Regions from separate parts of the Homo sapiens genome. Here all the other regions are linked to region 1. The links come from fine-mapping of genetic effects on gene expression. A gene starts in region 1. Each other region holds a variant in brackets. All regions are shown on one strand. Distances are from middle to middle.

Region 1 (5,244 bases):
CTCACAGAGGAGGAGTCACAGGAGGGCAGCGGGAGGGCTGGGGTGGGCTGTGGGGAGGACTGGAAGGGTGAGGACCTGGTGCTGGGGGCCTGCCCAGGTCACACCCACATCTTCTTGGGGATAGAAGATTCCAGATGATGTGGGTTTATTGTGTGTGGTGATGGATTTTTCAGGGGACACAGACCTTTTCCTCTTTTTTTTCCTCTCTTCCTTTTCCCAATCTGGGTATCTGTGGAGACCAAGCTCTAGTCCTAGGTCTGGCTTGGCTGGGCCCTGTATTAGTCCATTTTGCATTGCTGTAAAGGAATACCTGGGGCTGGGTAATTAAAGAAAAAAGTTTTATTTGGTTGGGTGTGGTGGCTCACTCTGCAATCCCAGTACTTCGGGAGGCTGAGGTGGGAGAATTGCTTGAGACCAGCCTGCCCAACATGGTGAGACCCCCATCTTGAGAAAAAAAAAAGTTTTATTTGGCTCATGGTTCTGCAGGCTATACCAGCATAACACCAGCATCTGCTTGGCTTCTGATGAGGCCTCAGGAAGCTTCCAATCATGGTGGAAGGTGCAGGCATATCACATGGTGAGTGAGGAAGCAAGGAAGAGGAGCGAGGTCCCAGACTCTTCATCAACCAGATCTCTTGTGAACCCATTACCGTGGGGTGGACACCAAGCCATTCCTGAGGGATCCATCCCCATGATCCAAACACTGCCCACCAGATCCCACCTCCAACGTTGAAGAACACATTTCCACAGCTCTAAAAAAGAAATTATGTCTGTGAGACTTCTGCTCTATGCCAGGCACTTTAAATCCATGATCGTGTTGGATCCTGTGCCATGGGTGGATCACTACCCTATGACAGATGAGGAAACCAAGACTCAGAGAAGGTGTATTCCTCCATGAGCCCCACACACAGCTGGTGCACAGCAGAGCCAGAAGGTAAACCACCATCTGACTTACTCCAAAACCCAGCCTCTGCCAGGTGTCAGCTCAGAGCGCTATACCATCTTTGGCCTTGGTTTTGTATGGCTTTTTGTGACATTTTTGTGACATTTCCATGGCTCAGCACCCTACACATAGGTCTCCTAGAACTATTTGTGGATTTAAAATTTTAATAATGGTGAAAATAGCTGACATTTACTGAGTTCCTGCCACCAGTGGGCACACAAGCAGGTTGAGCCACTTGCTCAAGTTCTCATGAGCTCAAGGCTCGTGGCAGAGCCAGGAGAGGATCCAGTCTGTCGTACTCCAAGGTGTATGGTTTTAACTTTCATTTTTCTTGAAGAATCTAGACTTGCAGCAGGGATGTTAATCTCTGTGCCCATCTTTCTCAGGTAACGTGGGGCTTTTGTGGGTTTGAACTAGTTAGAAGAGGACAGCAAAGGGCCTGAACATGTCCAGGGGAGGCGTGAGGCAGTGGGGTGATGGCAAGGGCTGCGGGCCAGTGGCATCTATTTCTGAACTGGTGACCTCCTGCCTCCGGGTACAAGGCTATAATAAGCCCCATGATTCACCAGTTGGACTTCTCCCTGTCGTTGCTCCAAGCAGGTCTTGTGCTTTGCCACCTGTGGGCCCCAGCTCATGCTGTGTGCTCCAGGAGAACATCCTGCCCCGCCTCACTCCCTTTGCCATACTTGCCTGGGGACGCCCACTGCAGCTGCCATGTCCTCTAGGAAGCCTTGATGGACTAGCATGGATAACCTATTCATTTCTGAGTCCAAACAGAATCATTTATTATAGACTCAGAAAAAGGCAAATGGAAGACTATACCTATTTTGAGAAATTTGGGAACATTTATCTCAGGGGACAGTCAGGGGCCAATACACATTAGTGACAATCTTAGCATATGAAATTCCAGTGATCAGCGACTCTTTAGTGCTTGACTCAGTTTTTACAGAATGAATCTTATTCTACCTTAATTCCACATGAAATGGGTTTGGTCTCCCTTGTAGAATGCAGGAGACTTTGAGCCTGGGTTGGAAGGCTGGTGACCTTGGGTAAGTCACTTCCCATATCTGAGCCTCTGCTCCTTTGTCTGTGAAAGAGTGGTGCTTATACCTATGTTGTTAGGTTGTTGGGGGATATAAAAGGGTAATAACAGTTGCTACTGTTTATTGAGTGCTTGCTATGCACCAGAGACTGTGCTAAGCTTAGCTTTGCATTTTTCTTTGATCTTTTCAAGAGCTCCTCTCATTCCCGATGTTCCTTACCCTGCAATATTTTTTCCCATAGCACTTTACATTTTGTATGATATTATATAATATACTTACTGTGCTTATTTTTGGTCTTCCTCTCCCAGGGCCTCTTGCCTCGTACAACTCCAGGGGGCACCATTCACAATGCTTTCTACTCCAGGGGTGCTTTTTACTAAGAATATTAGCATGAATGGTGGAAACTGCTGGAGTTGTGTGATGTGGAGCCCCGGGAGCTTCAGAAGGTCAGGGATTTTTGTGTGTGCCAGTTCTGATCATTGCTGTATCCCTGTACCCAGAACGGTGCTAGACCTATAGTAAGCATTCAGTAAATATCTGTTGAAAGAATGAATAACATAGCCTCCAAAGAGAGCTGATTTTACTATCTAGGAAACTGAGGCTCAGTCTGACTTATGAATTTGCCCAGAGCCCCACAAGCCAATGACCCACCCAGCTGTTCTGCCTCCAGTGTGCCTGCTCTGCGTGGCTTTGCTAAGCTGCATGCCTTTAACTCCTCGCATCGTCTCTGCCACCAAGTAACTGCTCAACAAATATTGATGCTTTTCCCTACATGGGTCAGGCCCTCTGCTAGACTATCCCAGTAGAGTGACAAACCATCATATAGCTGTTGATTCCAGAAACTGAATTAAATTGCACAGTGCAAAAAAAGGGAGGATCTTAAGTTTTTGGAAGAAAAATCCCTAACCCAAGTGCTAATGTTTGGAGTTTGCAGAAGCCTCTCAAGACTTACCAACCCGATTACTTTTCCTGCTGCCTTCCCTTTTGTGAGCGTTTCTTCCCCTTTTTGCTTGCAGTGAGTTCTGCTCTCCTGTAGGCTACAATGTGTCAGTTGTTATAAAATCCGGGAGGCGGAGTCTAGTGACGTGAGCAGTGGGGGAGAGCTCAGCCAGCCCTGCAGGGCGAGCAGTCCAGCCTTGTGTTCACCGGAGCTTAAGCGTTGCAGCAGGAAAACTTCCATCTCGCTCTCCTGGCTTTGATCCTCACTGGACATCAGACCAGAGGCACCGAAGGGAGGGAGGATGCGAGATGACCGGCCCTTTGGCAACCTGACCATCGACTTAGCAGAGCCTTCAAAAGCAAGCCAGGGGCTGGCTGCACGACCAAAGAGGCGCCGCGCCTCTCGTGGATGTGTGTGTGTGAGTGATCCAGCGAGTGTGTGTGCGTGTGAGGGTGTGTGTGTGTATGCCTGTGTGCACAGCACAACTGTGTGCGTGTCCCGGTGAGTGTGCCTGTGCATGCGTGAGTGTGTGTACGTGTGCATGTGTGTGTGAGTGCGCTTGGTTATTACTATTATTATTATTTTTGGAAGAAAAATCTTTGAAAATCTGGGGCAGGTTACTGTGCTCCTAGGGTGATTCTTCTTTTGCAAGAGGAGCTGACCAGGGCAAGCTACTAGAGCCATTTCTCGGCAAGTAAAGAGATTTTTCCTTCCAGAAGGAGAAGGATTTTTCTCCCTGCTCTGCAGCCAAGTGAAAGAGATTAGTCCCTAAACCTGTGAAATCGACCAGAGCTGTGTGATTACCAGGGCTTGAGAGAGGACTCGAAAAGAAAAGGAGAAATAAATCAAACAGCCTGTCAGTTCCTTTGGCCACGTCAGAAGATGTCATCTCAAACTAAGTTCAAGAAAGACAAAGAGATCATTGCTGAATATGAAGCCCAAATAAAAGGTGAGATGCGGGCTGGGAGAGTTTTCCTTCTCCTCCCCTTTCGTTTTTCTCTTGTTCTGGTTCCCATCCCCCGCTGCCCCCCGTTTTCCTCTCTGCCATTATGAAATGTTATGCATCAATAATCTTTTTGTGAGGAGTAACAGTGGCAGCCGCACAAGTCCGGACTGGTTTCAACTGCAGATAGCGCTGGGGCTGGGAGTGTGGATTATGGAATGGGCAGCAGTCTCTGCATTGCAGGTGTGTGAGGAGGATCCTATGCCTGACTTTAGGAGTGTCGCTGATACCCCATCATCTTGGCGGTGACATGTCACTCTAAGGCCATTTTGATAGTCACTACCTCCACCCCTTCCCTGCCATGGTAAAAGCCCTTTAATATTGGGGTATTTTTTTACCATCTGCTCTTTTTTTCCTCCCCCTTTTTGGTTTCTGTTGGTGGTGGTGGTTTTGCCTCCGCCTCTTTCTCTGGGCCGGAATTCACATGCATGTGCACAGCGAGGCAGCATCCCTGGGCGGCACTTCTTTGTCGGTGTCTCTGGGCTGGCCTGGGTTGCCATGGATTAACTGTTATGGGGCATATTGATCCAGACTAATGCAGGCATTTGGGCATAAAAAGGGAGCTTGGTGCAGAAAATGTATTATCTCGCAGTGTGCAGCCCAATCACTCTGTGCCCTGGCGTTTAGGTTCATCAGCTTTCATTCAAAGCCAACACCTCGGCATGCCGTTTGGGCTGGTCAGCGCTGCCTGGCTTCCGGGGTTCCAGGAGAAGCCTGCCGGGAGGGCGAGATGACCTCTGGCTGCTGGTTGCACCTTCTGTGCCACCGGGTGTATACTTCTTTCAGAAGCCGCTCCCTAAATCCACGCTAGCCAGGCGAAATAGGAAAGGGAACACAATTGCATGGCTAAATGCGGGCTTGCCGCATCCTCATTCAGGCCAGACTGGGGCTTCTCCCACCCCTACACGTTCTAGGCTCAGCTTTGGCAAGGAAAATCTAAAAGCTCCATCCAGCAGGCTCCTCCTTTCTCTGAGGATGTGCCCTGTGGGAAGCCTGGGCTCGTGCCTCTTGGCGTCCGCTTTCTTTCTGGTCATGGTTCTCCTTGCTGCGACACAGGGTGTGTTGTGGCCTCTCCTAGAAAGAGTAAAGACAAAATGCATCTTCAGCGGACCTTGAGGCCTATCTTTGAGGTTATGCACAGGCTGTTGAGCAAGTTGGGTATTTGGGGCTCAAGCAACCTGAGGTTGCCACACCTGCTTCTGGGCGCTGCTGCAACTGAAGACCCAATGACCCAGGGAGCTGGGTGGCCTCCTTAAAAGCAGCGGGAAGGCTGGGCACCGCAGCTGCCATACACGCTTCAGATGCTTGGGAAACT
Region 2 (5,244 bases), 140 kb after region 1:
CTTCTTCCCGCTGCCATTTTCTATTGATTTTTGTGATTATCTGATTGTTATCTGAGACCCCCACTAGACTGTAAGCTCCACGAAGTGGGAAGTGTGGCTCATTTTGCTTACCATTGCCTGGCACAGAACAGGCACACACTTACTATTGGCTGAATTAATGATTCATGCTACAAGCAAGTGCAATGAATGCTGAATCCTGCTTGGGGCAGCTTAGGTAGCAGGAGGTTAAATGCACCTTTCTGGCCACAGAACTGATTGAGTTAGCATTTCTCGGACGCAAGCCCAGTGTGAGGCCTGAGAAGGTCCTGGAACGGGGCAGGAAGCCCAAGCAGGAGCTTGCCTTCCTCCCAGAGGGACCCTGATCCCAGGGCAGTGGCTTTGGATTCATCTGGAACATGGGACTCTGCAAGCTTGGAAATGGGTTTTGTTTGCTAAGCGGAATTTTCCGGCCCTCAGCCGAGAAGCTGGAGAAACTGGCTCACTGCTAATTTCATTTTCCCAACTCACTAGCTTGGCAAGGCCTGGCTCCCCTAGCTGCAGTCTCCTGGAACCTCATATCCAGATCCCCTAGCCAAAGAAAGAAAGCTGTGACTCACCAGAAATGTTCATTGCTATTTTCTGGCCATAAAAAAAGAAAATAGATACATACATATGCAAAATTTCTAACGTGATGTCTTAGTTCAGCAGCTTCTGCTTGCTGGGTCGACGCTTGCATGAAAGATTGGAGAAGCGGAAGGGTCACTCTGAGTGCCTTGGCCGAGGGCACTGGCCCTCATTCATTCTGATGTCTTCCAAAAATGAGGCTGCAGAAGACAAAAGTGGCTGCTGGCACAGAGAGCTGGATCTCAGGTCAAAGGGGTTCCACTTTCCAAAGGGGCAAACAACCCCAGGAACAGGGAAGGCAGAGGCTCAAGTTTTCTGCAGCCTGGCGTCTGGCTCTGCGGTCTGCGGCCCTCGTGCTTCCTCCCTCCTGCAGTCCCATTGTGAGCCAGATGGGGGCAGGATGGAGTGTGTGAGACCCTGCAGGCCCCTCCAGCCTCACTCTTCACCCTCTTCCTCCTCTGCCTTGCCTCCCACTCCAGCCAGGCTGTTCTTTACTTAGTTCCTTAAATGCACCAGGCTCTCCGCCCTGAGGCGCCTTTGCCCATTCTGTTCCCTCTGCCTAGAGCCTTCTCCCGCCAGCCCACCTGCCCAGCCCCTTTCACTAGCGCCCTCCAACTCTTCCTTTGGAGCACAGCTTAATGACCTCTTCCTTGGGGACACTTTAGTGACCCACAAATCAGGCCAGCCCCCTTATTACAGGCACTCATGGCACAGGCTCCCCTCTGTTCCAGCACATTCTGCACTTCTAACTCTACCCACATTCGTGGGCTCATGGTAGGTGTCTGTCTCTTCACCAGACTGTCTGCTCCATGAAGGCAGGAACTGTGTCTGTTGGGCTCAAGGTTGTGTCCCTGGGGTCTGATCTATACAAAATATTCAACAAAAATGTATGGAATGCATGAACTGCTGAAGAATGACTGCAGAGCTCTCTTCTGGCATTTAAGCCCAGAGTGACTCCATGGTGTGAGTGGCCAGGCTACAGGGAATAGGTGGCCTGCCCGGAGTCCACAGCTAGCATGGCAGACGCCGGTGAACACCCATGCCCACGTCCAGGTGGCTTTCTGTTCTCTACTGCTGTGCTGAGTCCCACCTGTGGGCCTTCTTCTTTCAGATGTGGTAGAGCCTGCCTGGTACCATTGTGGCCAAGGCCACACATGCTAGCTTTCTACAGAGCAGCTCTTGACCCTGGCTGTGGACAGTTCACCCCAGCCTTTTAGACTACAAATGACCTGCCCCACAGGAGGGAGCCAGGGCTGGGAGAAGGTGGGGGTGCAGACCCAGCAGTTTCCCATGCTGGGATGGACCTAGAGAATGGGCCGCTGATCGGACGGCAGGCCTGGGACAGCATCTCAGAGGAGGCCAGGCTGCACATTGCCCCATCTTGCCCTCTTTTAGGGAAGCAGGAGGGGAGGCGCCACCGCGGCTTGGCCCTGCCCCAGCCCTCCGGCCACAGCCTTGCCATGCTTCCCGGGGATTGACCTCTTCTGCCATGTGGCCACAGCATTTGTAAAGCCTTCCTTGTTGTTCTGTGGTTTTAAATAGCATCCAACTCCTTGCTGCTGGCTTCCATGTTTGTCTCTCCAGCCCAGATAGCTCCATCTGGATGCCCCACAGCCTTTTAGACTCGTCGTGTTCGACTCGAACTCATCATCCTCCCTCCCCGCCCCACCCTTGACCTGCTCCTCTTCATCTCCACAGAGGCTCCTTCTACTCCCCCAGGTGCCCAAACCAAAAACTGGAGAGTCATCCTGGACATCTTTTGCTCTCTCTCAACTTCCAGCCCTAACTCCATCCCGTCAATCTCCCTGTCCAGTCAATTTCCTACCTAAGCCTTTCTTGAATCCCTCAGTTTCTCTCCCGGCCCCTGGCTCTGTACAGCAGCCAGAGTGAGAGTTTGAAAGTGCAGTTTTACCCTTTCACTCCCCTTCTGTAAACCCTTCAAGGTCTGCCTGCTGACCTCAGGACGGAGCTTGAACTCTAATGAGAGTTAAAGGCCCTTTCCCAAGTGGCCCCTGCCTCAGTCTCCATGTTCACCTGCTGTCCTCACTCTCCTACCCCAAAACACCATGCTTGGGCCCCCTCCCTACCTGCTCCTCCCTCTCCTGCTCCTCCCTGGGCCTTTGCTCATCACATTTCTCCCCTTTGAAGGCTCCTCCCTGTGAAACTCCAGTCCGGCTTTTAGTTCTCAGTCTAGAAAGCGTTTCCTCCAGGAAGCCATGCATGACCAACCTCACCACCAGATCTGGGGAAGGAGGCTCCTCTCTGCTCCATAGCCTCCTTCCC[A/G]TGACTGCACTGATGAGGCTGCCTCATCACTTTCTGTTCCTTGTGAATCTCCTTACTCAAGTGGAAGACTTGCAGGGCAGGGTCTTGCAGCCTTGGTTGCTCCTGCACTCGCAGCACCTAGTCCTGCCCAGCACAGACACACAAACGCAAGGAGTGAACGAGGGCTGGAAGGAATCTTCACAGCAGCTGCTCACTTCAACTTGAGTCTTTGGCTGCTTTCGGGTAACATCCTCCTCCTTGCCTTGGCTCGCTCTGCCTCCTGCAATTCTGTCTTATACCGCACTGCCTCCTGGCTTGCAGCTTCTGATAAGGACAGCGCTGTGCTCTCTGCCCTTCCTCTCATCTCATCTCTCTGGCTAGATGACCTAGTTAATGGTCCCCAAACTGTCCCAGCAATTCCCCATCAGTTCCAGATCAGTTGTCTTTTTCCTTCCCTCTGAAACTCACCTTCTGGCTGTGGCTTCCATAATTTTGCACAATTTAATTCCCTGGTGCTGTTCACTTCTTGCCTCCCAGGTTCAGCTAAGCCCCTGAAGTAATTTAGGTAACAGCTCAATTATCTCATCTCTCCTTTAATCTTTCCATTTCCATCACCACCTAGGAAGCAGTGAAAATGAGATAAGCAATGCATTTTCTGTCCAAACCTACTGCTCCCCTTGCAGTTCTTATCTCAGTTCATGTCATCAGCATCTACCCAGTCGCCTAAGATCTGAGCCTCGGAATCACTGTCTGCTCCTTCCTCCTCTTTCTGCTGTTTTCCAGGAAGTTTCCAAGAGGATCTGCTCTCCTGTTGAGAAATCTCTCAAGTCCATCCTTCGCTGGCTACAAGACCACACCCAGGCCTCACTATTTCTCTTTTGAACTAAGATTACCTCCTGCCTGGTCCTCTTACCAAAAGCCCCATATCCCTGCTCATCCACCCACCCACCTACCCATCCATCCCTTCATCCTCCAATCTGCCTTCCATGATCATGCCAAAACACATGTTGGTTATATCCTACCTCTGCTGAAATAACTTCCATGACTCCCCACTGCCCATAGCAGACATTCTTATTTATTTTAGAAACTGGGTCTTGCCTATTACTCAGGCTGGAGTGCAGTGGCATGATCATAGCTCACTGCAGCTTCCACCTCCCGGGCTCCAGTGATCCTCCCACCTCAGTCTCCCAAGTAACTAGGACTACGGGTGTGTGCCACTATGCCCAGCTAATTTTTAAATTTTTTGTAGAGACGGAGTCTTGCTATGTTGCCCAGGCTGGTCTTGAACTCCTGGACTCAAGTGATCCTCCTACCTCAGCCTCCCAAAGCCCTGGGACTCAGGCACGAGCCACTGCACCCGGCCTAAAGCAGGCATTCTTAACCCTGGCTGCACATTAGAATCTTCTAGAGAGTATAAAAATATGAGTACCACGCGCTACCCCCAGAGATTCTGATTTTGTCTTGGATGGGTCCTGGGTCTTGGTGTTTTTTTAAAAGCTCCCCAGTTGATTCTAGTGTACAGGACAGGTTGAGAACTATGTGGTCTAGAAGATAAGGGGTCCCACCCCCTTAGTCTGGCAGTCTCCCCCAACATTGGGCCTTTAATCTGTATCCCCAGCCTCATGTCCTACAGTCCTCCACTAACACACTCAGAATTCCAGCTCTTCTGAGCTACTTCACTATATTTGTACCCACTGGTCCTTCTACCCACAATTCCATCCTCTCTCTGACTTCTGACCATTTGGAAAACTCCTACCCATCCTTCAAGACCCAGCACAAATGCAGTCTTTTTTCATGGGTCTCTCTTCCATAGCATCTGCTACATGGCAGGCACATTGCTGGGTGCTGGACGTGATGACACAATAGAAGTGATCCCTGCTCTCAAAGAGCTCACAGTAGGGTGAGGGGGAGGGATGGAAACTCCTTAAGGTAGAAGTTCTGTAACTTGAGTATGCATCCAAATCACCTTGAGAGTTTGTTAAAACACAGATTCTGGGCCCAGCCCTAGGGCTTCTGAGTACACGTAGTCTGGGGCTGCCCTGAGAACTTGTATTTTCAAGTTCCTAAGTGATGCTGCTGCTGCTGGTTCAGGGGCCACACTGAGAACCACTGCCTTAGCGTGTGGTCAACGGGGTGTTCTCTAGGGAGGTATCATCTAAGCTGAACCTACAGTAATAGAAACAGGCATTCATGAGAAGAGCAGGGACTGTGGTATTCCAGGCAGAGGGAAAAGCGTCCAGGCCCCAGTGGGAATAGAAGAGGCCGCGTGCCTGGTACCCAGAACACACTGGAGGAGAACGATGCCTTCTGCAGCTTCTCCAGCAGAACTGATGCTCTGCGTATGTCTCTGTTATAGACTGGAACCACCTTCCTCTCTAA
Region 3 (5,244 bases), 170 kb after region 1:
TTCTGATATTAAGCCTTCATGAGCTACCACTGGATTCAGAGGCTTCTCACCTCTGCAAGGGTGAGAGGAAGGCTGTTCTTTGCCCATTAGCAGCTGGTCCAGCTATGAGGCTGAAGGAACTGGGAGGAAGAGCAGGAGGCTGCAGCTGCTCAGGGAGCCAAGATCACGGCTCCCATTTTCGATACAGAAACTCAACACGATGGTCTTGGCAAACAGGGAGAATGTCTTGGTCCTTTTAGGTGTCTATAACAAAATACCGTAGACTGGGTGACTTATAAACAACAGAAATGTATTTCTCACAGTTCTAGAGGCTGGGAAGTCTAAGAGCAAGACACTGACAGATTTGATGTCTGGTGAGAGCTTGCTTCCTGGTTCATAGAGGGCAATCTCTTGCTGTGTCTTCACATGGTGGAAGGGGCAAGGTAGCTGTCTTGGGTCTCTTTAAGGGCATTGTATTAGTCTGTTCTTACATTGCTGTAAAGGAATACCTGAGGCCGGGTAATTTGTAAAGAAAAGAGGTTTAATTGGCTCACAGTTCTGCAGGCTGTACAGGAAGCATAGCACAGGCATCTGCTCCTGGTGAGATCTCAGGAAGCTTCCAATCATGGTAGAAGGTGAGGGTGGAGCAGGCATTTCACAAGGCAGGAGTGGGAGCAACAGAGAGAGAGTGAGAGGCGCAGGTGCCACACACTTCAGAATACACCAAGGGGATGTCACTGAGCCGTTCACCCCCATGATGCAAACATCTCCTGCCAGGCTCTGCCTCCAATGCTGAGAATTACATTTCAGCATGAGATTTGGCAGGAACAGAGGTTCAAACCATATCAGGCACTAATCCCATTCCTGAGGGCTCCACCCTTATGACCTAATCACCTCCCAAAGACGTCACCTCCTAATACCATCACATTGGGGGTTAGGATTTCAAAATAGGAATTTTGAGGGAGACACAAACATTCAGATTATAGCAGAGAATATTTACCAAAATCATAATCACAATCATAAATAAAATAACAAAGAATTCTAGACTCTTCAAGCTGCATGGAACCTAGAGATAATTTTCTCATTGTTTTCTGAATTGTGTCCTTAAATATCATGAAAGCCACTTCATGGAAATAGGACTGTGGTCAATGAAACTACAGACTATACCTCCTTCTTAGAAAGTCTCCATGCAAGGAAGGACATGAAAGGCACTGAGAAGTCCTGCATTAAGAAAACTTGTCTACCTTTGTTCAATTAGCTTTTTCTCAAATGCATGTAGTCTTAGAAGCCCCTGCTCCCCCTTTTTAGCATAGCATCTAGCAGTGATCTTCAGACCATGCTTTGGAAAGTATTGTTTTAGTTTAAGCTTTTTATTTGATAGGTGAGGTAGCTGAGGCTCAAAGGGGGAAGTGATTCTCCAAGGCCACACAGCCAACAGTGGAAATGAGAAGCTAGATCTTTTGCCTTGTGCCCCAGAGGCCTTTCTGCCAACCTGTACTTCTCCTGTTCCTCATTGGAAGAGACATCTTGAGAGTGTGGACTTGCGACTGTGTCAGGATCTAGGCAATGGTAAGATGAGATTAGGCAGACCAGGGGACCAGCACTGGGGAGGGCTGAGCTGAAATTTGGAGTCAAACTAAGGTTAGGGCATCTGTTGTAACCAGTCCTTGAAAGCTAGGAAGGCGATGTCCAAGTGGGTGCCAGCTGCTGATTCTCAGTCAAGGAAGACAAGCCTTCAGGAAACATCTTCTGGAGCAGTGGTCCCCAACCTTTTTTGCACCAGGGACCAGTTTTGTGGAAGACAATTTTTCCATGGACCAGGGTGGGGCGATGGTTTCGGGATGATTGAAGCACATTATATTTATTGTGTATTTCATTTCTGTATTATTGCATTGTAATATATAATGAAATAATTATGCAACTCACTGTAATGTAGAATCAGTTTGAGCCCTGAGCCCTGAGCTTGTTTTCCTGCAACTACATGGTTTCATCTGGGGGTGATGGGAGACAGTGACAGATCATCCTGCATTAGATTTTCATAAGGAGCGTGCAACCTAGATCCCCCACATGCGCAGTTCACACCAGGGTTCGAGGACGTATGAGAATCTAATGCCACCACTGATCTGACAGGAGCTCAGATGGTAATGCCCGCTCACCCACCGCTCACCTCCTGCTGTGTGGCCTGGTTCTTAGTGGGCCATGGACTGATCTGTGGCCTGGAGGCTGGGGACTCATATTCTGGAGGACCTGAGATTTTTCCTGGAGGACTTGAGAATTATCATTTACTCTCAAGAGGAATTGGGATGCCAAATCATTGTTTCTCAAAGTGTGTTCTATGGAACCCCACTCTGTAGCCATTCATGAGGATTGTGCAAGGAGCTCAGACCCTGGTCATACCAGCTTAGTACACGTAGAATTAAAGAAAAATTCTGTGGGG[C/T]TTCCCCACATCTTTAATATGCTACTGTCACTGTGAGTCACTGTGGTAGGGAAATGATGTGTAGGGTTCTCCAACTCATATGATCAGGGAATCCCATCTGCAAGGAACCTCTCTCTGTGGGTTTGTTTCATGGACATAGTTGAGGAATTTATGTTGTTGTAGATCAATGAAATTTATGCTGATTTCTGTACCCCTTCTGACCCCACCCGAAACATTCCTGACCTTTCGCTTTTGAAAAGAGATTGGTAAATGTAGCCAGCAAACTTCTCCCCCGCTGACATTTGTTCTTCCACATTCCAGAGCAAGGAGATTGGCCTGCAGATGCACGAGGAGCTCCTGAAGGTGACCAATGAGCTCTACACAGTAAGTTCTGCCCAGGCTCACTGCTGTTTTGGGATTGGGTCTCTGTCTTCATCACCAGAGCTGGAGGGAAGCAAAACAGAGGTCTGGAATGACCCCAGGCCTTTTTTGCTGCGTTTTATGCTGAGTGACAGTGGGTCATCGTGTCAGGATGTAATGACTCACAGCCCCAGCTTCTGATTCTGTACATCTGGGGCAGGGCCTGGGCTTGTCTAGTTTGTCAAAATTCACGAGAGATTCAAACGACCTGCCGCTGTGGGGCGTGTTACCTGCAAGAACAGAGGGCACAAAGTCAAGGCCGGGGGAGTGTGAGTGTGAAGGCTCCTGAAGGCAGGGATGTGAGTTTTGGAGTGAGGCAGCACAGGCTCCAGCAGAGGCCCCTCCTTACCAACTGTAGGACCATAGGCAGGTGGGCAGTTTGTCTGGGTCTCAGTCTGTGCATCTGCAAAATGGAGCACGGTTCCGAGGATCACGGGAGGTCATGGGGTGAGCCTGCATTGCCATCTCCAAGGCATAGTTTCATAACATCACAGTGTGGTCCACGGCTGACTTTGTTACCTGCTTGGAGTCAACATCTAACTGTGCTTGAGATGAGTTTTAGAATCCAAGAAGGTGAGCAAATGGGGACACAAACACATGAGGTGATGATGCAGGAACTTTCAGACTGTGCTTTGAGGAGCCTACGGCTTCCTCAAGAGGAATGTGGGGACCCCATGGAGAGATATGGGGAGTGGGGTGGGTAGACCCAGCAGGTAGAGCTCCAGGCCCCTCAATCCTACCCAATCAGAACAGAGAAGAATGGTTATGTTTTAAATAGATAGGTGCCCTATATAGCATTTCATGAAAAGTGTGTTTGTTTGTGTGTTGGGGAGAATCTGCTGGTAAAATTGTATTTGAAAATCCCTGGTATGAGGGGAAAGAACAGCAGTCTGTGAGAAGCCCCTTCTGTTTGGTTTTATTATCTTTCTGTGTTTATATCCTGTGTGGCCAGCAGGTGGTAAATTCCTCAGAGGCACTGAGAGCCTTTGCGGGAGGGCCTGGACCTCAGGTCAGAAAGCCTGCCTCAGATCCCAACAAGCTACGGAACTCTAGGCAAGGCATTTTTTTTCCTGGGCCTCAGTCTCCCAATCAGTAAAACGGGGCTGAGAGTTCTTAGATAAAAGTTGAAACTTTTAATTCTGTGATTCCAAATTAAGAAGCAAAACTTGAGTTGTGGGTAGTTTTTAGTTGAGTCATTCTTAGGGTAAAGGAAGAATTGCTGCTTGAGAATGCATATTGCTTTGCATCAGCTGGTCACTGGGGGGCAGAACAGCCTGCTGGGTTAAGGCACAGATTTTGAAGCCAGAGATCTGGGTTCAAATCCAGGTGTTAAGTAGAAATACTAGTACCTGCTTAGTGCACGTCCCTGTGAGAATTCGAGGAGATCCTGTATGCAATGGATGCTTAGAACATAGAGAAAAAAAGAGCATTCTGTACCAGAAGTTCTGAGTGTCACTATCATCATCATCACTATCATTGGCTCCTCCTTGATGGGTGTGAGGTAGGCTGTTGTACATACTCACGGTGGGGGGAAGGGTGGTGATAAATAATGCAAGCCTGGTAAACCGAATGGGATTGTCGTGCTCAGAATTCTGCAGCGAGTTTGGCTAGACCAGGTGCTCCCCAGTCTAGGTCCTTTTTATGTTCCTCAGGCTCCACTTTGAATGGATCACTTTCCTCCACAGTGTCAAAACAACTTAGCCCCAATGTCCTGGGACCCCCCCATTCATTCCCACCTAGGTCTCTTACTTTTGCTGTGACCTCCAGCGGGGCTCCTCTTCTTGGTGCCCTCTATTTACACCAAATACCTTCCCCCTCTGCTGCTTTTTCCCTGCAATCCCTGCTGTCTATACCTACCTGTTAGTGTCATGCTCATTTTTCAAACTCAGACCAAACCTCGCCACCTTCAGAATGTTATTACCTCTCGGCTTCAAGTTCCTATGGCAGATGTACCAAAATCTCTTGTATCTTTATTGTCTATATCCCGTCTCCCAACATGTTGGAGTATAAACTCCCTGGGAGTCAGGTCTTGGCTGAGAAACACTGCATGAAAGGCCCAAAGGCTCCATTTGAACCCAGCTGTGTGGCCTTGGGCAAGTCCCTTCACTTGTCAGTTTCACCTGTGACAAACAGGGATGGTCACCTTTCTGTGGTTTGTAGACTGGACAAGGCCAGGTGATGGTCAGAGATCAGGAGGACAGTGGCATCTCTCTGTGTCCTTCAAGGTCCCAGTGCCCAGCACAGTGGCCTGAATCCAGCAGGTGCTCCATGCACACCTCCCTGTGCTGGCTGCAGGGCAGGATGGCTGGACAGAAATGCCGCTGGTATTGGAGACACAGGCCAGGCAGGGTGGCTGAGGCCCCAACAGGACAAGCCATGCCTTGCCATTTCCACAGCAGCCTGGTGAGGGTCACCAGAAGCTAGTGGAG
Region 4 (5,244 bases), 81 kb after region 1:
AAGGAGAAGGCCATGGGAGCATGAATCCAGAGATACGGCAGGAGACGAGAAATGCCACATTGCAGGCAGCCCCCAGAAGCCAGGACAGAGGCATAGAACAGATTCACCCTCACAGCCTTGGAAGGAACCAACCCCACCGACAAGCACCGTGTCCTCTTCCGGCCCCCAGAACCGAGGCAATACATTTCGGCTGCTTAAGTCACTCAGTCCGAGATGCTATTGGGCCAGCTCCCAGAAATGAATATAGTATTTGGATCCCATCAGAGCCTCTCACCTCTGAGTATGGGTTGGTGTACTTTAGCTATCTGGTTCCTTCACATCATATTTAGTTTGGGCACACAGGGGCTATTTTGAAGCATCCAGGCAAAGATTTTAATAATAATAAAAAAACTTTTAATAAGACTTTAATAAGAATTTTAATAAGGTTCTGATGAGAAACTCTTGGATGTCCTTCCAAGTCATGTAGAACCATGCGAGGGATAATAAGACTCATAATCCCACTTATTTTTATAGGGCTTCAGTTCACAAAAAAAGTCCTTCTCATTTATTATCCCACTTGACCCTCAGGGCAATCCTGTGCTGTTAGCACTGTGGGCATTCCCATTTTGGAGAGGAGAGAACTGAGGCGCACAGATGTTCCAGAATTGTCTTAAGTGGCAGAGTGGGGATTTAAATGCAGGGCTCTGACCCAGCCTCACCCTCTTCCCATGCGCTGGAGGCTGCCTCTGAACTTGGAGCAGATTGGATGTTTCGAGGGCAGCTTGGCCTCTGCCTGGGGCCCAAGGAGTAACACGTTGTCTTAATTCTTTTCCAGTAGTGAGGGAGAGGGGACCTCAGGTTTCCAGGACTTTTTCAGGTTCTCATGGGGCTCTGTGGAGGCTGCTGGGGCCTCAGGGGTTCTTGGGTTTCTCTTCCACAATATTCTGTTGTGGGGCCCAGGCCCTGAAGGGTCAGGCCATCTATAGCAGGGCACAGCTGGCGGAAGCTGACTGCCCAAGGCCAGGATCAGCACTCCTCAGATGCGTGCGCTGTCCTGCTGCTGAGGGACAGAACAGGCCTGAATCCCATGGCCTTGCTCTGCCAGCAGGCTGGAGCGTGAGGACACTGTGTGACCCAGGCCTCTTCATGGCTCCCCCAGCGCTGAGACAGTGCTCATTACACACCAGCAAGTGAAGGGCTTGGGGGAGAGGAGCAGTGCTGAGCTGTGGCGTCCGAGGCCTGAGGGCAGGTATCTGTGGTGTGTGACCTGGGCATGTGCCCTCACCTCCTTGGGCCTCAGACCCACGCTTGTGAAGTAGCTCCATAAGAGCATCTGCCTCGCTGGGCGAAGGTGCAGAGGAAAGGGTATGCTGGGAGTATTTTGCAATGGTTGATTTCAGCATCATTCACAATCAGAACCACCGGGAATGTCCATGAGTCTTCAGGGACTGTGTGCTAAAACCTTCTCCCCATTTGGAGCCATGAAGACCATTTGAGTGCGACTTCCTAAAAAGCAGCCCACCTCTGCTCAGGTCGCCTCTCTTCTGTTGTGTGAGAGTGTGAGTCACATTCTTTTGCTGCTGGAGAGTTTCTTTCCCCTGGAACCCTCTTGCCCCCACCCCGCTGCTCCCCGCACTACTACTCCGAGGCTGTCATGTGAGTGTTTTCCACGTAAAAAAACACAGAAAGTTCATTCAAGCCAAATACTAAGACAATGTTACCAAGTCTCAAGTGTATGGAGTTCATTGCACTGACGTGATGCAGGGCTTCGGCAGGCTCAAAAACTTCCCAAGTGTCAAAGAGTTTTGGTTTGTAGATTTGAGAGGTGTGAGACTGGGGGCGGTTTCTTCTACGGACATTCACCCACACATCCCACACACCAGCACTGTCTAAACGGCAGTGATCAAATCTTCTATCATTTCATCTGTGCTTCCTGTGGGGCGGTGTCAGGTGCTTTACATAGATTAAATCTTCATTTTGTCCTCTTAACAAATGTCAACACAGGCTTGTCTGACTTTAAAGTCCAGGCTGTAAGCAGTTAGGTGTACTGTCTCCCAGTTGGAAGAAACTCCAACCCAGCCCCCTTCATTTTACAGGAGAGGAAACTGAGGCTCAGGAAAGGGGACCATGACTTGCCTAGAAAGTGGGGCAGGAACCCAGGAACCCTGACTTCCAAGGCTTTTCCCCCCTAACCCATCCTCCCCTTCAGAAAGCACTGATCCCCTTCCTTCTGTACCAGAGGGAACTCCAATTTAGTGATTCTCTAGCAAGCAATAACATTCCAGGTCCTGGAGTAACCTGAGAAATGTGGTATTGGTTAATTCAAAGCCATTGTCAACTTCACAAGGTGTTGGCCTAATTGATGCCAAGTATGGCTACTTTGAGTTTCCCAAGTGTTGAGACTCATAAGTTTGGCACTGGAGGGAATTATTTACTCACTTATTGTGCATTTCAGCTTAGCAGAAATTCATAATTAGTAGTTAATAGTGTGGGAACTTCTCACTGTTCCTGGAACATGCAATGACATGTAACTCCTCTACCTTTGTACATACTGTTCTCAAAGCCTTGAATAGTCTTCCTCCCACGCCCACCTTTTCTTTGCTGCTTGAATTCCTACTCACCCATCAAGAGCAGTTTTCTCACTCATGTCCTGCTACCCCACCTCCAACCCTGGACATAAACAGATATAATGTTTTTACAATCTGCCTCTCCCACCAGACTGTCAACTCCACAAGGGCAGGGGCTATGTCTCATAT[A/G]TAATGATTATAATCATACTTACAAAGTGCTTCTTTGCAGTCAGGTTCTGTGCTAAGCACTTCCTGTGCATTATTTTATTTCATGCTCCCCAATATTGTAAGATAGATACTATTACTATCCTCATTTCCTAGATGAACAGATAGATCCACAGAGAGGCTCAGAAACTTGCCCAGGGTTACACAATAGCTGAACGAGCCGGGATTGAAATCAGTGCTACCATGTACAGTTGTGCTGGCCATGCACTGCACAAGGGTCCACAAGGGTGGAAGGATCAGTTGAGTCTGAAATCTTGCTCTCACCTGGGTGCAGAGCTGTGACTGTTGGGAGGAAGGGACACCTTTCTCTAACTCCTGGAGAGGCACCACAGGGTCTGGCTCCAGGGTTCATGCTCCTAACCACTGTAACATATCAGAATATAAATATGCATATTCATGTTGCCACTCTGTGCCAGTCTGGCTGAGTAGGGGCCCAAAAAATGAATGAATGAGAGATTATGAATCAATAGGTTTTTCCTTTTTCTCCCTTCTCTCTTTCCTCATATCTGCAGGACCAGTTTGTTACTTAACAGCTTACTTGGTTTAAGAAACACATCTTTTAGTTGGCTTGCCTCCAAGCACGTACGAAAAGATGGCTGAAAACCCAGAAAGAGGTCTCCATTTGGAATGTCTTTTATTCTAAGTAATTTCATTCTGCCACCTTTGGGCTTTTGAAAGTTGTTAAGCGGATGTTAAAAAGCGCAGGTGAATGGAAACAAAGGATTCATTCTGAAACCAGCTGCAGGAACTGCACATCCTGCTCATGCGTGATGTGCTGGGCCTTGGTTTCAGTGAGGGAGGGCACACGTGCACTAGATTCTCCTGCAGGGCCTCAGCTCCAGTCCTGAGCGGGGTGGGGTTGCTTCTGACCAATCAGGTGACTTCTGAGCACACTTGGAGCAGTTGCTAACAGCAGAGACGATGGTTGGGCTCCTGCCACTGGCAAAAATGGGGCTTTAGGATGAAATGTCTGAGTTTGTCCAGATCCAAGCAAAGGACTGGAGAGGGCCTGGGGCCAGGCTGTCTTTGATGGGCTATTGGGCTAAGTCAAGACTGCATTTTAGACCTCACTTCTGACTTCGTTGCACTCCTGTTGACAAAGACATGCTGCCACTTGCTAGTTATACCCTTGGATGTGTCTCTTAACCTCTCCGGGTTTCCTTTTACTGCCCTGCAGAAGTGGGGAGAGTGTCACCTACCGCATAGACTTGTGGTGGGGAATCAAGGAGCTAATGTCTGTGAAAAAAGCACTTTGTGAATTGGAAATGGCTGTACAAATGCTATAGCTACCATTATTTGTCATTAGGTGGATTTAGTTCCCTGGAGGTATTTTCTGCTTCTGCATGCACCATGGAGTGCGCTTGGAGGCAGTCTTGAGGGAGGAGTAGGGTGGGAAGAAAACAGCGAGGCATGCTGAGGACTGAAAGATATCTAGGCTGGGCTCTTGTGTAGAAGTAGAGAAAATAGCTTTTGCTTTCAATCTGAAGTGGGATGAGTTGATGGCCTTCAGCAGATGCTGCAGAGTAGAGTTTAGGAGCTGGATTCTCCTCCTTCCTGAAGTTGCACCCTGGACATCTGGGGATGTTTCTTAAAACCAGCACATCCCAAGGACAGAGCTGGCCAAAAGCTAGGGGCTTGGGAAAGGAATGCGGTCCCAACTTCCTGCTCCCCCCCTAGGCGTTGACAGCAGGGAATTCAGCTCCCAGAATTTAGGAGCAAGGTCAGTGGATGGGCCATGGATGTGGGCATGTCAGCATGTGTGCAAAGTGAGGCATAGGCCTGGGGAGGGTTGCTGCAGGGGAACATAGGTAGAGAAGAGGAAGATAAATGACTCCTGGGAAGCAGCAAATGTCAAATGTGTAAGTACAGAAGGGAACTAGCAATGGAGAATGAGAGAGAGAGTGAAGAGGCAGTGAGGGGAAACCAGCAGGATGAGTCAGGGCCTCTGTGTCTTGATCCAAATTGGAATTGTGGGGAGAGTGAGCAGTCAAGGCAAGGCTATAGTGAGGGCAGGTAGGATGGAGGCTGAAAAAGCCACTGCAGGACCACCCTCAGCCCTGGAGGATCAATCCTCCCCCTTTCTCCTGCCCAGGAGAATTGCTGTCACAGGTGAGCTTCTGCTGATGGTGGGAGAGCATCATGTCTCTCAAGGCTGCTGGTTCGCAGAAGGATTAAGAGCCCGAGGACTAGGGGTCTCCAGGAGGCTGAAGAACAGGGATAGTTGAGTCAGGTAGAAACAGAGGGATGAGAAGTTGTAGCTAGAAAGAGGGGGTTTCTAGTTGAGGATTTCAGAGGTAGGGCAGTTCCTGGGAGTTGACAAGGTCAGGGTGGGGCCATATGAGTAAGTTCTAAGAAGGGATGGAATGGAAGACAGTTTGATTAGTGAGGATGAAGAAATGAAGTCAGGGTGATAACTGGTCATCAGCATGGATATTTCTGTGGCCCTGGATGACTGCAAGAGTGGAAGTCATGA
Region 5 (5,244 bases), 21 kb before region 1:
GAAGACCTTTAATCTAGAAGGCTGAACATCAGAGTTATTCTAAAAGGATATTAAAAATGATCACTTGCATAAAGACAGACATATAGACCAATGGAATACAATTGAGAGCCCAGAAATAAGCACACACGTATATGGTCTAATGATTTTTAACAAGGGTGCCAAGAACATTCAGTGGAGACAGAATAATCTTTTAACAAATGGTTTTGGAAAAACTGGACATCCACATGCAAAAAAAAAAAAAATGAAGTTGAACCCTTACCTTACACTATATACAAAAATTAACTCCAAATAGTTCAAAGACTTCAATGTAAGACCTAAAACGATAAAGCTCTTAGAGAAAAGTAGGGGAAGCCTTCATGACATTGGATTTTGCAGTGATTTCTTGGCTATGACACCAAAAGCACAGACAGCAAAAGAAAAAATAAATCGGACTACATCAAAATTTAAAACTTTTGTGCATCAAAGGACATAATCAGAGTGAAAAGGCAATCATGGAGTGGGGAAGATATTTGCAAATCTTATGTCTGAGAGGGGTTAATATCTGGCTTATATAAAGAACTCCTAAAACTCAGCAATGACAAAAACAAACGACTGGATCAAAAATTTGGCAAAGGACTTGGATAGACATTTTTTGAAAGAAGATACATAAATGTCCAATAAGCACATGAAAAGATGCTCAACATCACAAATTAATAGGGAAATGAAAATTAAAACCACAATAAGACAGGGTTCTCTAACCCCTGTTAGGAACTGGGCCGCAGAGCAGAAGGTGACTGGCTGGTGAGTGAGCATTACCACCCAAGCTCCACCTCCTATCAGATCAGCCATGGCATCAGATTCTCATAGGAGCGCAAACCCTATTGTGAACTGCACATGTGAGGGATCCAGGTTGCGTGCCCCTTATCAGAATCTAACTAATACCTGATGATCTGAGGTGGAACAGTTTAATCCCAAAACCATCTCCTTGCAACCTCGTCCTTGGAAAAGTTGTCTTCCGTGAAACCCGTCCCTGGTGCCAAAAAGGTTGGGAACCACTGCAATAAGATACAACCTTACACCCATTAGGATGGGTACTATCCAAAACAAACAAATAGACACTCCCCTGCCCCCAAAATAATAAGTGTTAGTGAGGAAGTGGAGAAATTGAAACTCTTGTGTATTGTTAGTGTGAATATAAAATGGAGCAGCTACTGTGGAAAAAAGTACTTAAGTTCCTAAAAAAAAAATAAACAGAATTATTATATGATCCAGTAATTTCACTTCTAGGTATATACAAAAAATAATTAAAAGCAGAGACTCCAACAAATAGTTATACCAATATTCATAGCAGTATTACTCATAATAGCCAAAAGGTAAAAGCAACTCAAGTGTCCATTGATGTATCAAATTTTGTTTTAAAACTTGATACATATATACATTAGAATATTATTCATCCTTAAAGAGGAAGGAAACTCTGACCCATGCTACCACATGGATGAACCTTATGAACATTGTGCTGAGTGAAATAAGCGAGTCACAAAAAGACGAATACTGTAAGATTCCATACTTGTATGAAATACCTAGAGTAGTCAAATTCATGGAAACAGAAAGTAGAATGGAGGCTACCAGGAGCTGGGGTAGGAAGGATGGGAAGTTTAGGGGATCCAGAGTTTCAGTTTGGGATGATGAAAAAGTTCCTGAGATGGATGGTGGTGCTGGCTGCACAACAATGTGAATGGCTTAATGCCAAAGACCTGTACACTTAAAAATGATTGAGATGGTAGATCTTGTGTGTATTTTACCACAAGTTTTAGAAATTTAAAAAACTTTAAAAAGTGATTACTCACTTAAAAATCACACCACCGTAACGACTGACAACATTTTCTACTACGAAGGGATGGTGCAATCCAGGGGGCTGTGAATGACCTGTGGGTAAGGTCCTAGCTGCCCAGTAAAGGCAGGTTGTAGTGGACAATGTCCAAACATTGCAACAGATTTGTAGCAACTGAAGTTGTAACCGGTTTTGGACATTCATCTGTTTTGGCAGGTCATATGACTTTAGTTTGATCGTTGTGGTCTTTTGTTATTAAGATAGCCATATTCCAGAACGACTATAATTCCAGAATGGAGCAGGTCTCAGACCTTCCATGCACATTATCTTCTGTTGTGATGACAATGTGAGAAATGCCATAAAAGATAGAGATAGGTGCAGGGTACCTATTTGTTCATTCATTCTTGAGACAGGACAGAGGTGTAAATTACTGCTTCTTTGCTACATCCTCTGCCACGCTGTGCTTTTTTCTTAGTGCATCATGCTTTGGCTGTAGGGTTTTTCATCTTATTAATGGGGCACTTTATGTTCAATGGGGAAGCTAATTTTCCTAAGTTGGGTTCCCTGGAGAACAGACCCCAAAGTGGAGATCTGTGCACAGGTTTATGAGACACCTCTCAGCAACAACAACTGTGAGGGAGTGAGGGTGGCAGGCTTGGAAGAGGCCTCAGCCAATCCCATGGGAAGTTCTGAAACCGGGAGGGTCCTTCTGAATTATCCACAGGGAGGTAAGGGGGTGGGATCCTCTGCCCCATGGTCTCGGACATAGGCTGTCCTGGGGAGGGAGAATGATCTGGGGTGAGATAATGCTCCTTGGCTCAGGACAGTGCTTGAGGAGTGTTTTAGCCATGAGACCTCAATAGCCAACACTTTATTTATTTATTTTTTTGAGACAGGGTCTCGCTCTATTGCCCAGGCTGGAGTGCGGTGGTGTGATCTTGGCTCACTGCAACCTCTGCCTCCCTGGTTCAAGCGATTCTTGTGCCTCAGCCTCCCAGGTAGCTGGGATTACAGGCGCATGCCACCAGGCCTGGCTAAGTTTTGTACTTTCAGGTAGAAACGGGGTTTTGCCATGTTTTCCAGGCTGTCTTGAACTCCTGGCCTCAAGTGATCTGCCCGCCTTGGCCTCCCAAAGTGTTGGGATTACAGTCACGAGCCACTGGGCCCGGCTGATAGCCAACACTTTAGGCATTTGAGGGAGTGTGAGCCTTAGTCCAAAAGCCCAGGCAATGAAAGAAAAACAAAACAAAAATCCTCTGCAGGGGGATCTGGGCAGCACAGCATACACATACATGCTGTACCAGTCTTCTGCTTTTGTCTTCAGCGGTTATTGGTACCAGAGGTAAGGCATTTCCGGGAAAGGCAGCACA[G/A]AACAGTACCAGAAGCATAAACAGGAATTGACTTAAAAAAAAAAATCTCTTGCTTAAATAATAACAGTAAAAATGGAAAAAAGAAGGATGAAACTCCCACCTCCCTTCTGAATTACTTGTTTTCACTTGCTGTGTTATTGTCTGGTCAATATCCATCTGTACTCATCAATTTTACACACTTATGATTATAGGTATTGTGTATATGTGTGTATATAATATTTGTATTATGTGTATGTATATAAAAGTGATACTTCTTTTGCTGATCACAGTGAGTTTTTTTAAATGAGTTAAATTTGATAGAGAGAAACAGGGATATTAAATGCACAAGTCGATTAGTTTTGATAAGCGTATGCACTTGGGTAACTACCACCCCAGTCAAGGTAAACATTTCCATTACTCCAGATGGTTCCCTTGGGACCCTTTCTGGTCAATCTCCACCCCCATAGGCCACTATTGTTCTGATTTCTATCGCCATGGATTAGTGTTGTCTGTTTTTGAATTTTACATTAAAGGAAGCAGAGAGGATTGACTCTTTTGATACACATATATGTAAAGATTGACTTTTTTCTTTCCATAATACTACTAATGTGTTTTTTCTAATTATAAAATATGTATACTTTTATTATCAATATTACACAATACAGATTAATATTATGCAGCCTTCAAAACAACTGTGCTCAGACCCATTTCCTATAGGTGTCCACTGAATTTTGGTATATTTTCTTACAGTGGTTCTCAAAGTCTAGTCTCCAGACTAGCAATGTCAGCAGAACCCAGAAAGCAAAATTTTCAGCCCCACCCCAGATCTACTAAATCAGAAACTCTGGGGGTGTAGACTAGCCATGTGGTTTAAGAAGCCCTCCAGATGTTCCTGACACATCAGTATTTGAGAACCGTTTCCTTATGATTTCCTCCCTCCCTCCCTTCCTCCTTCCTTCCTTCCTTCCTTTTCCCTTCCTCCCTCTGTCCCTCCCTTTCTTCCTTCCTTGCCACATTTTTGTATTCTACTTTTTCATATGACACCTTATTAGAAACATTACTATGCCATGACAGGTAATGAGTTAATTTATTCAGACTAGGAAAAACTGGTGTGGTATTTAAGTGTAGAAATCAGGGTAGATATGGCCTGATTGGCCTTTTGCCCTCTCTTGGGATAACTGTTTCCCAGCCTGACCACATTTGTGAAAGGCCTCCTTACTCCCTCTCATCCCCACACAGCATGAGGATGCTGGAAATGTTTCTGGGTGGAGAGGTTCAATTGTATCTGGGAAGACTTACAAATAAACCTTGTCTCATTTATAGCAGGTGAATAAGAACTTTGTCCAGGCAAATAACACAGAAGGCTGGCACTTGTGGTTCCCAAATAAGAATTGGTCTTGAGGAGTCTAGGTGGGTGGACATGGATGTGCCAGTTTCAGGGGAGACATCCTGAAGGAAAGATCACTATGTGGCTCTGCAGGAGACACTGTCTGGGTCCTTGGTTGTGGTAGAACAAGGACCCCTTCTCTTGCCTCATAATACAGCACTGCCGGGGAGCACTGTGTCCACTAGTGGACTCCAGACTGGCAGGCCTGACTTTGGTCCTCCTTGGGAAGTGCCTATTGACTCTTCTTGTTTTCAGATGACATTTGTTAGGCTGAAAGAGGAGAAGGGACTTTATCCACAATCATCCCCAGAGTATAGCCTTCCACACAAAGGCTTTCTATTCATCCTGCAAGAAATGACCTTTCAAGATATGACCTGTGAGCACCCAGAGATTGGGGAAGTGACTTGCCCAAGGTCACACAGTGGGCGTGTTCCGGCCAACACTGAGATTCCAATCCTAATCACCTAACTCCAAATTCTGCCGTCTTTCCACTCTGTGGTGCTGCCTCCTGGAGCAGGCAAGGTTTTGTTCTTCTTCACAGTGGACAGGGCAGTAGGAAAAGGGACAGCGTTGGATGTCTCAGGGAGCAAGAGGCACCTATATCAGAACTTCTGGGGAAAAGGAAGGAAGAGAACATGAAATGCAGTGTGACGTAGTGCAAAAATGAGTGGGTTCTGGGGCCAGTGTGACCTGATTTA
Region 6 (5,244 bases), 150 kb after region 1:
GGACAAGTGAGATAAATCTTTTCAGTTCTCATTTAGGCTGACAGCAGCCTGACTTGTGATGGAGGTTAACAGGGTGGAAAATAATGAAAAAAATGTCTACAGCTGAGCTCCTGGCTGCCTTGTTACCAGGCCTGTGCCTGTGGAACAAAGGAAACAACCCAGCCCACAGGGGCTTTGGAGAGAGGCGCGGACGGAGCCTGGCTGGCTGACTTTGCACAGCACGGCCCCTTTGTGTTGCATCAGTTACACCTAATTTCGGAATGGAGGCCGGCACTCTTTACATAATAATAGTTCCCGCAGACCTCAAAGCAACTATGGAGGCTGCTCTCTGGTCAGACTGGGGATCCTCACTCACCTCATTTTACAGGTGAGGAAGTAAAGCGTTGGGAGGCTGCAAGGAGAACCCAGACTTGGTTGCTTTGGGCCCCTTGTCATTACCAGCAGGAGGCGGAGTGGCTGGGCTTTTGGAGTTTGTCTCAGAACTGCCTATCACTGCACCCTGGGCAAGTCTCTCTGAGTCTCAGTTTTGTCATCTGGGAAATGGAGCTGGTAACAATGCCAACTTCACAGGGGGCCGCTTTAATATGCAGAGGTGAGCCAAGTGTCCAGCCCAGGCCTGGTATCCAGTAGGTGCTTATTAAATGGTAGCTTGCCAGTGATCCCTAAGAATAGAAACCACTCCCCATGTCTGAGCTGGGGTCCTAGGGCTCTACCAAGCCACAGTCTGGCAGTGAGGCTGCGGGAGATGGGAGCGGCTTCTAGGCCAGGTGTCTGTCCTGTGCCTATCTTCTGGCTTGGGCCTGGGCAGCTGCCCTGCCTGCCAGCTTCTCACTGATGCGGGAGGTGGTTTGACTTAATAACTTACCTTTTCATGATTCTCCATTTCCCCTTTTGCAGTGGAGTCTGTTCTTATGACTAGAGGAGCACTTCAAATTCCAGAAGCCCCTGCACGTGGCCCTTGCTTTAAGTGTGAGATGTGGATCAGCCCTAGCAAAATTAAACTGAATGAGATCCAGGAGGCCATCGTTAGTGATCAGGACTCTTATGGTGGCAGACAGCAGAAATGCAGCTTGCCCCTCTTTAAGAGAAAAAGGGACCTTACTAGTTATAAGCCTGGCTTCGGGCATGCGGGGCTTCAGAGGAACAAAGGATGTTACTAGAACTCTGTCTTTCTGCAACTCTTTCGGCAACTCTGCTCCAGTTTTCTCTGTTTCCCGTTTTTTGTGGGGAGGCGAGGGGCTCTTTTACAGTCAGCCCCACCCGCTGGCCGTGTGATAACCAGAGGGCCCCTGGCATCTCCAGACCTACATCCTCTCTGCTTCAAGTCCCTTTTCCCAGAATGGGATATTTTGGTCTGTGATTGGTCCAGCACGGGTCACGTGAGCACACCGGGTGCTGCGTCTGTGGCTGGGGCGCTGCAGGGCTCTGCCTCGCCAGGCCGGGACACATACCCATCCCTGAAGCCAGATGCACACTCAGTTCCACCTGACCCATGGGACTGAGAATGGGTGAGGGGTGGTTCCCCAAGAAAAGTAGGGGTGCCTTTACAAGAAGAAGGGAGAAATAAAACAGGAGATGGCCACTGGACTCTCTTTTCCAGCCCTTTTATCATCCTCTACAGCAGCTGTACGCCTCTGCTAGATGTCCCTCAATAAAGAACGCTCCTTACCTCTCAGGATAGCTCATTCCATGTGGGAACATCCGTGATCAATAGAAAATTCTCCCGAATGCCGAAATGGAATCTTGTAGTGTTTTCACTCACAGGTCCTGATCATCCCTAGAGGGCCAAACAGATCAAACCTGTCACATGGAAACCTGTCAGTTGCTTGAAGGCAGAAATCGTGACCATCCACTGGTCCTTCCTGCCTATGGGCAGATGTCCCAGGTTCCTTCCATCGTCCTCCTGGAATTTGGCTTTGTGTTTCTGTCCCCATATCAGTCGCCCTGCCTGGGTCATGCTTCAGGTCTTCTCTGACCTACAGAAGTTACTATTCAGAACCAGTCGGAATACTCTAGGAAGGTCTGAGCAGCTCAGGGCAGAGCAGGGCTGTCCAGACACTTTATTTCTCATAAGACCCGTGATGGTGTTTGCCGCTTTGATGATTGTTTTACCACATGATTGACACAGTGAACTCTCAGTCAGCAAAAAGTCCCTTGTATTTTTGTACCAATTGTTTTTTAATGCAGCCTTTGACTTCTGCTTTTGTGTTTCTTCATATTTACCCTTCTAAAACTTCATTTTGTTAGATTCTGGTCAAATGGGATCGGTGTCCTTATTTGAGTGATTTTTCAAGCAGCAGGAGGGTAACTGCCAAGAGGTCCTAATTCCTCCTCTGTGGGAAAAGGCTGTTTTGTAACTTCTCCATGTCTTCCTCCTCGGTGTCACCTTCTGTGTGTCAATTCTTTGGCCTCCTGTTTGCTTCTTCTCTGTCTTCTTAGTGAGAGGTGGAAAGTGGGGCAAAGAGTTGAGAATAAATTCACAGTGGAAGTGCCCCTGGAGTTGGGTGTTGACGGATGAATAAGAGCCTGCTGAATGGGGAAAGGAGGTTGGGAGTTCAGGGTCTGGAGAAAGGTAAGAGCCAGTGGGTAGAGTTT[A/G]TGGTGATGGAGGTCGAAGGAAAAAACTCAGAACAGAGGCTGAAAAATGGCAGTGCACAACTGAGTTTGGCTCTGACGTATAATCTTCTTGGCCCTTACTATGTTAAGAAAGATTAAGTTGACATTTAAACATTTAAAGATTTCTCCCAAAATCACGATTTTGTGTTTCTCTTGCAAAATCAGAAGCTTTGACTATACCAGCCCCACATGGACTCACACGTGGCATCAGCTAGCGGTAGCTGAGTGGCTGCCAGCCCCGTCAGCCTAGGCACGCTGTCTCTGCCACTCCACTGACCCTGCTGGCGTATTTTACCTTACTTGGCTCCTTGATTTTGCCTCTCTGGCCCTTTGTGCATTTGAGTATTTGGCCTTGTCTTTAAACATTACCTCACTGCGGTTCTTAAAATCTAGCATGCATCAGGATCACCTGGAGGCTTTATTAAATGCAGACTGCTGGGCCCCAGCCCCACAGTTTCCGATTCAGTAGGTTTAAGGTGGGGCCTGAGAACCTGCATTTCTAGCATATTCCCAGGTGATACTCATGCTTCTGGTCTGGGGACCATACATGGAGAATGACTCCTAGTCCAACCTCCTCATTTCACAGATGAGGAAACTGAGGCTCATGTTTGGCAAATGCAGAGTCTGGCTCCAAACTCAGGTTTTCACCTCCAGCTCCAGGACTAAAGCCACTATCCCATGTGCTGCACCAGGTGGGAGGGTCAGTCTGCATCCCACTTGCTCTCCTGCTCCCCGCTAACCGTTTCTGAAACTGGGTATTGAAGCCCATTCCATTTCCAGCCTCATTCTGTTTTCTTCAGCTTCCTTAACAATAGCCATCCATTATTCTATGCTCTGATGCCTGTGGAATTTAATTACTTGCCCCGGCCGTGATGTGAATTTGATGGTTGGAAGCTGTGGTGTTGGGAGGAAGCACTAATGAGGAAAGACTCTTTGCAGAGAAGCGAGGCCATGTGGGGGGCTTGTGTTTGAAAGCAGCCATTCACTGTGTGGCAACAAGGACTTGGTCTTGAGTGAGTTTTCTCGTTCCCGCCTCGAAGATGTCCATCGCATTTTATAAATAAATCAGGGCTTTTTGTGTTCAATAATTGCCTTGCTTTGTAACCGAGATCAAAAGCACCCACTGGCCTTGGATTCAAAGCCAAGTTTATTTTTTATTTTTTGGTTGCATGAGAGAGTGGAGTGAGTGTTTGCATGCTGGAGGGTCCAGCTATGAGGCCTGCATGGGGAAGGAGGAGGGAGAGAGCAGAGTGGGCACCCTGCCAAGGGATGAGGCGCCTTCAGCCAATCTCCACCGTCTCCCAGGGAGATGAAGTCGCGAACGGTCACTCTGCCAGTAGAGCCTGCTAAGCCGGTCATCATCAGGCACTCCCAACTCATTTAATAAACATATATTAGCACTAGCATGACAGTAGGTAAACAATAATTATAGATAACAAACAGTGAGCAAACGCCTGCAGTGTGCCAGGCTCTGGGCTAAGCATTCTATACACATTTAACTCTTCAAACCTAAGATGAAGATGCTGCCATTATCCCATTTTACAGATGAGGAAACTGATGCCAAGAAAGGTGAGGTTAGGGTTTGAATCCAGATGTGTCCAATCCCAGAGCCCATACTCAGTGGTAAAGGCAGGTGCCAAAGAAGATAGAGTCAGGTGCAGTGGCTCACACCTGTGATCCCAGCACTTTGGGAGGTTGAGGGGGAGGATCGCTTGAGCTCAGATGTTTGAGACCAGCCTGGAAAACAGGGACACCTTGTCTCTACAAAAGGTAAATTATCCAGGCGTGGTGGCATTTGCCTGTGGTCCCAGCTACTCGGGAGGTTGAGGCAGGAGGATCATTTGAGTCCAGGAAGTTGAAGCTGCTGTGAGCTGTGATCACTGCATTGCACTGGGTGACAGAGTGAGACCTTGTCTCAAAAAAATTAATTAAAACAAAGTGAAGTAGTTAGATAAACGACTCAGACACAATGTCCTCCTCTCCCTCAAGGAGCTTCCAGTGCAGTCTGAAAGCAGAGACAGGTGTGAAGCGGTAACTCATTCAGATACAGCAGAGAGGGATGGTTATCACCACAGAAGTTTGTTCAGAGGGAGAACTTCTAACCTGGGAGGGGGAGGTTTGGGTAAGGTTAGAGGTGGGGGAAGCAGCATTTGAAGCGAGCCTCAAATAATTAGGATCTATCACCAGGGTTCCCTGGGAAGCCAGCTCTGAGACTGTATTTCGGTGCAGGGGTGTATCAGGGAGGATACTTGGGATTCCCTCCTGCAGAAAAAAAGGGAGGAAAGTAGGAGTTAGCAAACCGAGAAGTCGGACTGTGGTGCAGTCTTAAGGATGCTGGGGAGCTGGGATGGCCCTTCAGAGTTGTCCTGAGCTACAGCGAGGAGGCTGAGCCTTTAAACCCTCCTGTTGGGTAGTCATTGGATGTGGGCTCCCTCTAAAAGAGGCTGTGGGCTTGAGCAGATGATGCCTGTGCAGCCAAGGCAGTTCCAAAGCAGCTGACATCTGAGGGAGTCCATTGGCAGCACTTTCCTGCAGCTGGGGGAATACGTTCCCCAGGCCCGAAGGGGATCTGAGTGGTGCGTCACAGCGTCCACAACAGATGTGCAGAGATTTGGGGAAGGTGGGAGACGG

Alleles and levels. Positions count from the first base shown, and alleles are read on the strand shown. Sizes are in standard deviations (SD) of each study's normalised expression. Not every link is listed here.
For the expression in monocytes after Pam3CSK4 of the gene that starts at base 3,114 in region 1, allele T in region 3 goes with a higher level than allele C (moderate effect, 0.73 SD a copy in Quach 2016).
With allele G in place of A in region 6, the expression in macrophages of the gene that starts at base 3,114 in region 1 is higher (large effect, 1.0 SD a copy in Alasoo 2018).

What was found. PIP is the estimated chance that this variant, and not a neighbour inherited with it, causes the effect.
Region 2: its variant is the best candidate, but not a certain one, in a credible set for the expression of SRGAP3 in subcutaneous fat (GTEx, PIP 0.62).
Region 3: its variant is the best candidate, but not a certain one, in a credible set for the expression of SRGAP3 in monocytes after Pam3CSK4 (Quach 2016, PIP 0.89).
Region 4: its variant is the best candidate, but not a certain one, in a credible set for the expression of SRGAP3 in sun-exposed skin (GTEx, PIP 0.55).
Region 5: its variant is the best candidate, but not a certain one, in a credible set for the expression of SRGAP3 in naive CD8 T cells (Schmiedel 2018, PIP 0.56).
Region 6: its variant is the best candidate, but not a certain one, in a credible set for the expression of SRGAP3 in macrophages (Alasoo 2018, PIP 0.67).

The regions. Positions count from the first base shown.
Region 1 is chr3:9,247,516-9,252,759 of GRCh38, reverse strand. It overlaps SRGAP3 (SLIT-ROBO Rho GTPase activating protein 3), which reads left to right and starts at 3,114. Exons shown (of 22, transcript NM_014850.4): 1 at 3,114-3,875. The coding sequence starts at 3,809. SRGAP3-AS4 (SRGAP3 antisense RNA 4) reads right to left here and starts at 3,004. Exons shown (of 3, transcript NR_146969.1): 1 at 2,939-3,004. RefSeq lists an enhancer at 3,096-3,335.
Region 2 is chr3:9,107,321-9,112,564 of GRCh38, reverse strand. All of the region lies in intron 2 of SRGAP3 (SLIT-ROBO Rho GTPase activating protein 3), which reads left to right. Among named protein-coding and RNA genes, the nearest start is that of SRGAP3-AS2, 83 kb to the left of the region's middle. The variant A/G (reference allele first, on the strand shown) is at 2,887.
Region 3 is chr3:9,077,560-9,082,803 of GRCh38, reverse strand. It overlaps SRGAP3 (SLIT-ROBO Rho GTPase activating protein 3), which reads left to right. Exons shown (of 22, transcript NM_014850.4): 4 at 2,717-2,779. Among named protein-coding and RNA genes, the nearest start is that of SRGAP3-AS2, 110 kb to the left of the region's middle. RefSeq lists an enhancer at 4,621-5,121. The variant C/T (reference allele first, on the strand shown) is at 2,417.
Region 4 is chr3:9,166,767-9,172,010 of GRCh38, reverse strand. The region is part of intron 1 of SRGAP3 (SLIT-ROBO Rho GTPase activating protein 3); the gene reads left to right. Among named protein-coding and RNA genes, the nearest start is that of SRGAP3-AS2, 23 kb to the left of the region's middle. RefSeq lists an enhancer at 3,894-3,943. The variant A/G (reference allele first, on the strand shown) is at 2,736.
Region 5 is chr3:9,268,789-9,274,032 of GRCh38, reverse strand. It overlaps a transcript of SRGAP3 not described here. Among named protein-coding and RNA genes, the nearest start is that of SRGAP3-AS4, 22 kb to the right of the region's middle. The variant G/A (reference allele first, on the strand shown) is at 3,181.
Region 6 is chr3:9,097,583-9,102,826 of GRCh38, reverse strand. All of the region lies in intron 3 of SRGAP3 (SLIT-ROBO Rho GTPase activating protein 3), which reads left to right. Among named protein-coding and RNA genes, the nearest start is that of SRGAP3-AS2, 92 kb to the left of the region's middle. The variant A/G (reference allele first, on the strand shown) is at 2,596.